2 separate regions of the Homo sapiens genome follow, and region 2 is linked to region 1. Evidence: fine-mapped expression QTL. A gene starts in region 1. The other region holds a variant in brackets. All regions are shown on one strand. Distances are from middle to middle.

Region 1 (5,378 bases):
GAGGTAGGAGGACAGTTGCTGGGCCCCATGGAAGCTGCAAAGGGAATGGGTGGGGGATTCTAGAGTCTGAGGAGGCAGCAGGAAGATGTTGGGGTCTGGGGGGAGAGGCAGCCTCCATCAGGAGGATGTTGAGGCTCTGGAGGACTCTGGAGACAGATGCTGGTAGCAGAGAGAAATCTTTAACCAAAAATAATAGATAGGGACATGCAAGAGGAGAGGTGTATCTGACATTCCTACTACAGAGTCCCAGGAGGCTGTGAGGGTGGATGGTGAGGGGCTGGGAGAGGTTTCTAATGGAACACAAAGGCCCTGTGTCAATCTCTGACAGGACATGCTAGGTATCACAGCTGCTCTGAGGGTGTGGAAACGGGAAGCTGGGCCCAGATAGTGCAGGCCTTAAAAAGGTTAATAAGCAAACACTGGCTAGGTCCCCAAATGGGGTTGGGTTTCTCTGACCAATTATGTAGGACCCCATGGAGGCGCTGAAGGTAGATGCTGAGAAGAGGGTTTTCTACTGCAGTAGAAAACAAGAGGGCCATGGCCAGGCGCGGTGGCTCACGCCTGCAATCCCAGCACTTTGGGAGGCCGAGGCAGGTGGATCACCTGAGGTCAGGAGTTCGAGACCAGCCTGGGCAATATGGTGAAACCCCATCTCTACTAAAAATACAAAAAATTAGCCAGGCGTGGTGGTGCATGCCTGTAATCCCAGCTACTCGGGAGGCTGAGGCAGGAGAATCGCTTGAACCCAGGAGGTGGAGGTTGCAGTGAGCTGAGATGGCGCCACTGCACTCCAGCCTGGACGACATAGTGAAACAATTCTGTCTCGGAAAAAAGAAAAAGAAAAAGAAAACAAGAAGGCCTGTGGGGGGAAGGGACATCTGACAATGATCCTGGGGTCCAAGGAGGCTGAAAGCAGAAGCTGAAAACCCCTGACTGCAGACGTTAGGGACCTTGAAACGATCTGAGGGCAGATTCTGAGGCCTGATGTGAGGATAAGGGATCTGTGAAAAAAGCAGCTAGAACCCAGGTTGGTTTTTGAAGGCAGAGGCTGGGTCTAGGGTGGGGTTGGGGAGGCGAGTCTCTGATGGAAGGGGCTAGAAGCCAACGGGATCTGCAAGAGCAGATGCTCGCAGGGGCTCTTTGATGGAGGATTATGTATCCAAACAGTTCCTCCCTGGTATCTGGTGCACTGGAAGGCTCTGGGGGTTCAAGGTGCCTGATGGGGAAGATGCTGAGGCCTCTCAGTAGTCTCTGAATACTGGAAGTATAAAAAGCGAGAAATTCCATAAAAGTAGAGAAAGTGTCAAAGGACAGAGTCTAGGAATTGAAGAGTCTCTCAAGGCAGATGGTAAGAGGGGTCTCTGAGTAGAAATACTGGGCAGAGTCTCTGATGGAAGATGCTAGGGCCAGGGTGGGGTTAGGAGACCTGACGTGTGGCGAAGAGGGGCCCCCGACACAAAGGCCAGGCCCAAATGGCCTTTCACAGGGTCTAGTACCCCTGGAAGCTCTGAGCGCGGCTAGCATGTGTGTGGGATGGGGGTCTGAAGGAAAATGCTAAAGAGGACTCTCTTACAGAGATAAAGGGCCTATGGACCCCTTCGAGATCTAGCCCGTCCTGGAAGCCTTGAGGACAAATACTGAGAAGCTAGGAAGTGTCTCAAAGGAGATTCTGGGGCAGGTCTTTAACGGCATTCAATGGTGAGGAGCTCTGATCAGCAATGCTGATCCACGTAAATCTCTATTGGAGACTGGGGAAGAGTTCTGATCTGAGATACAAGGTTCGGGACGGAGTCAGGTCCCAGACTAGAGATGTTGGGCGTGAGTCTCTAAAAGCACATCCTGGGGGTCCGACTCCAAGGTCAGATTTTGCAACCAGAGGGAGCCGGAGTGGTCCTGGCCGGGGAAAGTCGGCCCCGCCCCAGGATCCGCTCCCCCTCCCTACTCCGCTGATTCCTGGCTCCCGAGTCACCGCGGCCCGCCCCGACAGCAGCGTGGCTCAGGGCCCTCCAGTGCCTCCCCGAAACCCCTGCCCAGGGCGAGGCGCAGTGAAAGGACGTTTTTTTACCAATGCCGGTTCCCCGGGTCGCGCCGCCGCCAACTCCTCAAGGAGCCGAAGCCAAGCCCGGCCGCCACCCTCCTCCTTCTCCTCCTCCCCGCCGCCTGGGCCGCCTAGAATCGCCGCTGCCGCCTTCTCCTCCCCCGGCCGTTGTGGTTGTGGTTGTCCCTGCCACCTCCTTACAGCCGAGCCGCCGACACAAGATGGCGGACGCTGAGCCTGGGGCCGGAACAAAACCTTGGGCCCCACCCCCAGAAACCCGGATGCAAGCGGGCCGCGCCTACTTATGAATCATGCATAAAGTTCCCTACTCGGTTGCGATTCATTCGGTTAGAAGTGGAACAGCACCACCTGGTGGACATTGTGGCAGTAACAACGAAAACAGGTAAAACAGAGGCCACGCCTCATGGAATGCGACTAATGAATGAATTGTTGCAGCCAGGCTGTCAAGGAAGCGAAGAAAAACCGTTAAGGCCATGCTTCCTGATTATAAGTTATGCATGAAGTTGAGTGGTTGGTAGACTAACAACCAGCAACCAGAAAGCAGATGTTAAAACATGGAAGCCACACACCCCCATTCATGAATAATGATGATCTTGCAGGGGCCCGGAAGCCAAGGAGACCCAGGCCACAACTTACTCATGAATAATGCATGAGGCCCAGTGGGTTGGAATAAAAGGGGCACGCCCGCCTATTGCTGCATCTAATACACTGTAAGCAGGGAAATGGGGCTGCTGCAGGGAAAACACACTCTCCCAGGTCCTGAATAATGAATTATGCTGCTGCAGTAGCTCAACCTGGAAACTCAGAGAGGTCAAGAAAGGTTCCACCCAATTTATGAATTATGCATAAGGCGAAGAAACACCCAAGACTGCCCTGCCCAGCAAATAGGGATTACGATGCTATAGCCAAGGCAAAGTGAGCACGCCTTCCTGTTCATGAATAATGAAAGATGTCACTGCAGTGCCACCAGAAAACCCAGGGGACGTGTACTCCCTGCCCCCACCTCCCCTCTCCACGCCTCCCTCCATTCTCCCCGCCTCAGGAACAAGGGCTGCCTTGGTCCAATCAAACCCAAACTCACTACATGTCTTTGGCAGGTGCCTCAGTTTCCACAACTGTAAAATGAGGATAGTAATGTGTTATTATGAAAATCAGATGACGCCTGTAATCCCAGCACTTTAGGAGGCCGAGGCGGGTGGATCACCTGAGGTCAGGAATTGGAGACCAGCCTGGCCAAGATGGTGAAACCCTGTCTCTACTAAAAATACAAAAATTAGCTGGGCATGTTGGCGGGCGCCTGTAATCCCAGCTACTGGGGAGGCTGAGGCAGGAGAATCGCTTGAACTCGGGAAGCAGAGGTTGCAGTCAGCCGAGATCGCGCCATTGCACTCCAGCTTGGGCGACAAGAGAGAAACTCCGTCTCAAACAAAAGAAAATCAGAGAATATAAATTATGGGATGAGCCTTAGAACATTGCTGGCACAAGGCACTGTTAAATTTTTAAAATATTATATATTAATATAAAAGTAATATGTTAAGATATGTAAATATATATTTACATTAATATAAAATTAGTTATGAATACTCAGCCACTAGAGAAACCCCCAACTTGGGCCACTGCTTCCCCATCCATAAAATAGGAATAACAGCAACTTACCTTGCGATGGAGTTTAAATGAAGAAATAAGTAGAAAGGGCTTAGACCAGTGCCTGGCACATGCTAAGTGTTATATTAGTAGTAGTAGTACTATCAAATGGCGGCGCAGGGGAATGGGGAGGGGAGACATTATGGCATCTGGTTAAGACTACAGATTGCGGAACTAGACCCCAATTTGAATCCCGGCCCAGCCACTCACTGATTGTGTGACCTTAGGCAAATTACTTAGCCTTCCTGTGTCCCAGTTTCCTTATCTATAAAGTGGGGGTAATAATGACCTACCTCCTAGGATTGTCGTGAAGATTAAATGCGCTAAGTAGCTAAACGAGTGTAAGCTAATCTTATCGTTATCCTCATACCCATTATTCAGGCTTACAAAACGATTTGCCAAAGATCACACAACTGGAAAGGATCGATGGGATTTGAATCCAGAGCCGGCTGATTATCTGGGATTACCAGGCCATAAGAAATGAACAATGTAGGAGGCCTCATCCCTTTGCTAGACGCCAGGTTTTAACTCTGGTACCTGCAAGGGAAAGCTAACCGCGGATCACGCAGACAAAGCTGCAAAAGCCACGCTCCTCATGAATTAAGCACGGAACCCCTAGAAAAGCCACTGAAAACTCAGGGTGCTACTTAACTTTTGCGAATCATCAATGAACTCGTTTGCGCGGCAGACTTCAGAACGCCCCTTCAGCACGTCCCTTCGGCACGCTGATCCGCCCCTCGTGAATAATTCACAAGCCGAGAACCTTCAGCGGACCAGGTGCGAAAGAGGCAAAAAAACTGCCGCCTACCACAGCCCCACCTTATTATGAATAATGAATAAAGGCCGGGTGGCGCCTCGTCAGCTCAGGAAGAGCTGGGCTCCGGTGTCCCTTCCCTAGCCTGAGCTGGGAGGCTCCTCTCCCTAGAAACATCTGGGCCCCCGACGTGTCCAGTCTCGCAGTCCTGAGCCTCCAGGCGCGGGGAGGACCTCATCACAAAACCAGAGGTCACAAAGGCCTGACACCTCCACAATGCCACGTCGGTCCCGATTGTTCTGTCACCAGGACCCCGTCCTGAAACAAGCCCTCCCCCAGTCCCGCCTTGACTTTAGTAACCTCAAGCTTTGCTTCTCCCCTTGAAGAATAACCCAAATCCTGCTCCACGGACAAGGGTGCCCATACACGGACCCTAAGAATCTCCCCAAAGCCCCCCAAACCCTGCCTCCGAGGGGTGCTCCCCGAAACAGACTCCCAAATCCCACCCCGAAGTCCCCAAACGGCACCCCTTAAGGGTCTCAAAAGCAGACGCCCCCTAAATATCACCCCGGGCCCGGAGGCTCCAAATACGCCCATGAGGGGTTTCCCCGAAGTTGGGATTAGGGAAGCACCCTCCTCCAAATGCTGTCCAGAGGCTTGGGGGCACGGTGCTCCAGCTCACCCCCTGTGCCGGGCGGAAGCCTCGCCTTCCTGCCAAAGATGAGCTGAAGCCACGGGGCAACGGAAGAGCAAACCACCTCTGTCGTACAAGAGAAGCCAGAGTTTGCGCGGAGCTCGGAAGCGCGGGGCCTTGGAGAGCCCCGGGTCTGGGATGTACCACAGATGCTTTGCTAGAGGGGCGTCAGTCCCTGCTCCCGCGTCGCTGGTGCCCGTTTCAGACCCAGATGACCCTACAGGTTG
Region 2 (5,378 bases), 130 kb before region 1:
ACCCTGTCTCTACAAAAAATTAAAAAATTAGCCAGCCATGGTGACATGTGCCTGTAGTCCCAGCTACTCTGGAGGCTGAGGTGGGAGAATTATTGCCTGAGCCCAGGAGGTCAAGGCTGCAGTGAGCCAAGGTCACACCACTGTGCCCCAGCCTGGGCAACATAGCCAGACCATGTCTCTTAAAAAAAAAAAAAAAAAAGGCCGGCGCAGTGCCTCAGCCTGTAATCCCAGCACTTTGGGAGGCTGAGGCGGGCGGATCAGGAGGTCAAGAGATTGAGACCCTCCTGACTAACCAACATGGTGAAACCCCGTCTCTACTAAAAATACAAAAATTAGCTGGGTGTAGTGGCACATGCCTGTAGTTCCAGCTACTCGGGTGGCTGAGGCAAGAGAATTGCTTGAACCTGGGAGGCAGAGGTTGCAGTGAGCCAAGATCGAGCCACTGCACTCCAGCCACTGCACTCCAGAGCGAAACTCAGTCTCAAAAAAAAAAAAAACTAGATTCAGGCCACTACATCTGCAAGACATCAGCATTTGAGAAATCGCTTGTCTCCATGGCCTGGCACTGGTTTTCATCCTGGTATTAGAAATGCATCAGTGCTCCCTGGGGAAGGGGCCAGTTTCACCAGCACCTGCCCCATGAGCTGTGAAAATGTGCATTCTAAGAAGGAGCCAGACAGGGCCCGAGACCCTCCGTGACCCATGGCCCGTGATAAAGGTGTTGGAACAATCGTGCCAATATGGCCACAGGAAGCATGATTGTTCTCTCCTTGCGCATTGCAGGGGCTGGAGGTTGAAGGTGTGACCTGTGCTGTTGTCCCAGGAGCCGGGGCTTTCTCAGAAGCCCTTTTCTTGTGATGCCCAAACAACCACGCAGAAAATGCTAATTGGTTACCCTCCAAAACAACAGTGAAAAATGATGCTTTAGGCTTCAATAGCCCCATCACAGCTTTCATCTCACCAAGAAACCCTAGGCCAAGCTTGTGCAACCCTCAGCCTGCAGGTCGTATGTGACCCAGAACGGCTTTGAATGTGGCCCAACACTTTCTTAAAATAAAACATTATGAGATGTTTTGTGGTTTTTTTTTGTTTTTTTTGTTTTGTTTTTTAGCTCATCAGCTATCATTAGTATTAGTGCATTTTACGTGTGGCCCAAAACAATTCTTCTTCCAATGTGGCCCAGAGAAACCCTGCCTGGGCTTTTCCGATTTAGCCCTCCCACATTTCCCAGAGCAGGACAGTCCCTCACACCAGTCTCAAAGGCCAGCAGGGCTTTTCCTCACAGACTGAAAGCTATGGTCACTAAAGTGTTCAGAAGTGATGATAACATAATCAAGACTCTTCCTTAGGGCTTGAGGGTTCCAGCAAACATCTCTGCCATCTGTCTGCCTGCTTTTTCTGTCACTTCTGAAATTCTGGTATCATGCCCGTGGTCAAAGCAACTAACTTCTGTGGCTACTAGAACTTTCTTCCTGCTTTTCTCACTCTGCACTTCCTGCTGCTGTCAATGAAACTCAGCTTCTTATTCCCAGGCACTCTCAGAGTGAGGATCCATAGGAGGCTTTGATTCTCAGGACAGATAACCCCATCTTTCCTCTGGTTCTGACCTATTTTTCTGTGTCCTTGTTACTGTGGTCATACCCAGAGAAGTAACATTTTGTCTTGAATTTGTAAAAATCTCTACCTTTCCCCACAAAGGGATTTCAGCACAGTGGCTATTTTAACAGATACCATGCAGCACGTACCACACGTTCCCTTCCTGAGTCCTTGAAAGTAATTTTCAGCTTTTGATCGGCTATATTGTTCTTCCCAGCTACATTTTGGGAAGTCCAGCAGAATAACTTGCTACTCTTTTAAAGGTCCTAATGATAAAACGAAACAAAACATCCCCTTTTTATCATCACCCACAAAGCCCTAATGCGTGCAACAAAGATTGTGAAACGTCCAGGGAACAGTTTGTGAGACAGAAAGGATGGCTTTGTTGATTAGCAAAAAGCTGGAACGTGGACACTGGCAACACAACAGGATTGGGACCCGCCTTCTTCAAGTGAAACAAAGTTGGAATTATTTTCAATTTTAATGTTAAACGGTTTTTTTGTTTGTTTCCAAATTATTTGAAAAGTTACTAATCCAAGCGTGGTATGAGTGGTATCATTTTGGTAACTAGATTAATGCACTACCAGATCCTAGAATTTCCCACTTTACCAAATAAAAGTATGTTCTGTGGAATTCTCCTAGACCAAGACAGGCTTTTCCCCTGAGCAATAGTGATAAAGTTGTCTAAATACATGAACTGGTGGCATTTTTCAAAAAGTAATAATGTTATAATCAAGAGGTGGTGTTGCTATGTTGCCCAGGCTGGTCTTGAACTCCCAGTCTCAAGTGATCTGCCAGGAGGCTGAGATGGGAGGATCATCTGAGTCTGGGAGGCCAAGGCTACAGAGAGCTGAGATTGCATTGCTGCACTCAAGCCTGGGTGACAGAGTGAAACCTTGTCTCAAAAACAAAACAAAACAAAACAAAACAAAACACTGCCACCATGCCTGCCTAATATTTTTATTTTTATTTTTGTAGAGATTGAAGGGGGTCTCACTATGCTGTCCAGGCTGATCTCAAACTCCTGAACTCAAGTGATTCTCCTGCCTTAGCCTCCTAAAATGCTGGGATTACAGGCGTCTTTAAGTGCTGGGGGTCGGCATATTTAAAATGAACAC[A/G]CTGCCTATAATCCCAGCACTTTGGGAGGCCAAGGCAGGTGGATCTCCTGAGGTCAGGAGTTCGAGACCAACCTGGCCAACATGGCGAAACCCTCTCTCTACTAAAAATACAAAAATTAGCCGGGCATGGTGGTGGGTGCCTATAGTCCCAGCTGTTTGGGAGGCTGAGGCAAGAGAATCGCTTGAGCCCAGGAGGCAGAGGTTGCATTGAGCCATATCGTGCCACTGCACTCCAACCTGGATGACAAAAGGGAGGCTCCGTCTGAAAAAACAAATAATTAATTAATAAAAATAAAATGAACACACTGTTTTAGTTTAACAGACTAAAGAGGTGCAACCGTATGGAATAAATGAGCCTGGACTTAGTCTTGTGTTTTAAAAAAGTTATAAAAGATGTATGGGAGCCGGGCGCAGTGGCTCATGCCTGTAATCCCAGCACTTTGGGAGACCGAGGGGGGCGGATCACAAGGTCAGGAGTTCAAGACCAGCCTGGTCAACATAGTGAAACCCTGTCTCTACTAAACATACAAAAATTTGCCAGGCATGGTGGCACATGTCTGTAGTCCCAGCTACTCGGGAGGCTGAGGCAGGAGAACCGCTTGAACCCGAGAGGTGAAGGTTGCAGTCAGCCGAGATCTCGCCACTGCACTCCAGCTTGGGCAACAAAGTGAGACTTCGTCTCAAAAAAAAAAAAAAAAAAAAAAAAAAGATGTATAGGACAACTGGGGAAAATTAAATATGGACTGGATATTAAGCAATATTAGGGAAGTATTTAGAATATTAGGGAATTATTTAGAATTATTTAGAATTGAAAGGTATTACTGTGTGCAGCTAACTTTCAAATGGTTTGGGGCTGGACGCGGTGTCTCACGCTTGTGATTCCAGCACTTTGGAAGGCCAAGGCAGGCAGATCACCTGAGGTCAGGACTCTGAGACCAGCCTGGCCATCATGGCATAACGCCATCCCTATTAAAAATACAAAAAATTAGCTGGGCATGGCGGCGGACGCCTGTAATCCCGGCTACTTGGGAGGCTAAGGCAGGAGAATCACTTGAACCTGGGAGGCAGAGGTTACAGTGAGCCGAAATCGCACTATTGCACTCCAGCCTGGGTGACAGAGCGAGACTCTATCTCAAAAAAAAAAAAAAACAAGAAAGAAAGAAAAATAAAAATAAAAAGGCCAAGTGCAATGGTTCACGCCTGTAATCCCAGCACTTTGGGAGGCTGAGTCAGGTGGATCACTGGAGGTCAGGAGTTCGAGACCAGCCTGACCAACATGGCGAATCTCCATCTCTACTAAAAACACAAAATTAGCCGGGTGTGGTGGCATGCACCCATAATCCCAGCTACTTGGGAGGCTAAGGCAGGAGAATCACTTGAACCTGGGAGGCAGAGGTTGCATGCAGTGAGCTGAGATTATGCCACTGCATTCCAGCCTGGGTGACAGAGCAAGACTCCATATTAAAAAAAAAAAAAAAAAAAGAAAGAAAAAGAAAAAGAAAAAAAGAAAAAATTATTAATGACTTGAAATCCTACCACTGTACAGTTAGCACTACACACACACACGTAATTCTACCAAAGTGGATCATAATATTTATGCTATTATAATGATTTTTCACAGCTATCTATTTTAATGTTATTTTGTTTTCTTTCCTCCTTCCACCTGGTAACCAGCTTCTGCATCCTGGTTTATGTTGTGAAAGGAAAATATCTTCAGCCCCTTCAAGCTGGTAACTGCTCAGGGCAAATCTGTCTCATTCTATTCGAAGTCATCCCTCTGCTCACTGAAATTAATGCATATTCTGATTGCCTCCTTTGGAAAGGCTTATCAGAAACCAAAAGAATGCAACCATTTCTCTCTCACCTGCCTGTGACCTGGAAGCCCCCTCCCAGCTTCAAGAGTTGTCCCTGTCTTTCTGCATGAAACTAGTGTACTTCTTACATATATTGACTGATGTCTCATGTCTCCCTAAAATGTATAAAACCAAGCTGTGTCCCAATCACCTTGGGCACATGTCATTAGGACTTCCTGAGGCTGTGTCATGGGCGCACTTCCTTAGCTTTGGCAAATAAACCTAAAATGATTGAGACTTGTCTTATCATTTTTCTCGATTGGCAATGTCCTTCCATGCCTTTTTCTGATAAGTTGCTGACATGTATTGAACATTTACTACAAAGCAAGGACCAGGACTTTACATACACACTATATTTTACAAAAACCCCATACTGTTATTATCTCCATGGTGTTGACAAACAGAGAAGCTAAGGAAATTTCTCAAGGGCACACAACCAACACATATGTGAACTGTTTTTGGTTGGGTTGTATTTTATATATATATATATATATATATATATATATATATATTTTTAATGTACTTTAACTTCTAGGGTACATGTACACAATGTGCAGGTTTGTTACATATGTATACATGTGCCATGTTGGTGTGCTGCACCCATTAACTTGTCATTTACATTAGGTATATCTCCTAATGCTCTCCCTCTCCCATCCCCCGGTTGGGTTGTATTTATTTATTTATTTATTTTGAGATGGAGTTTCCTTCTTGTTGCCCAGACTGGAGTGCAATGGCGCGATCTCAGCTCACCGCAACCTCCACCTCCCGGGTTCAAGTGATTCTCCTGCCTCAGCCTCCTGAGTAGCTGGGA

Which allele goes with the higher level. Alleles are on the strand shown, and positions count from the first base shown. SD is a standard deviation of normalised expression in the study named.
As copies of A replace G in region 2, the expression in tibial nerve of the gene that starts at base 2,261 in region 1 goes up (small effect, 0.24 SD a copy in GTEx).

What was found. PIP is the estimated chance that this variant, and not a neighbour inherited with it, causes the effect.
Region 2: its variant is fine-mapped to the expression of UBA1 in tibial nerve (GTEx, PIP above 0.99).

Annotation. Positions count from the first base shown.
Region 1 is chrX:47,190,712-47,196,089 of GRCh38, reverse strand. It overlaps UBA1 (ubiquitin like modifier activating enzyme 1), which reads right to left and starts at 2,261. Exons shown (of 26, transcript NM_003334.4): 1 at 2,066-2,261. RefSeq lists silencers at 1,989-2,138, 2,233-2,421 and enhancers at 2,179-2,358, 4,556-5,096, 5,077-5,126, 5,157-5,206.
Region 2 is chrX:47,323,694-47,329,071 of GRCh38, reverse strand. No RefSeq gene overlaps it. Among named protein-coding and RNA genes, the nearest start is that of ZNF157, 44 kb to the left of the region's middle. The variant A/G (reference allele first, on the strand shown) is at 2,715.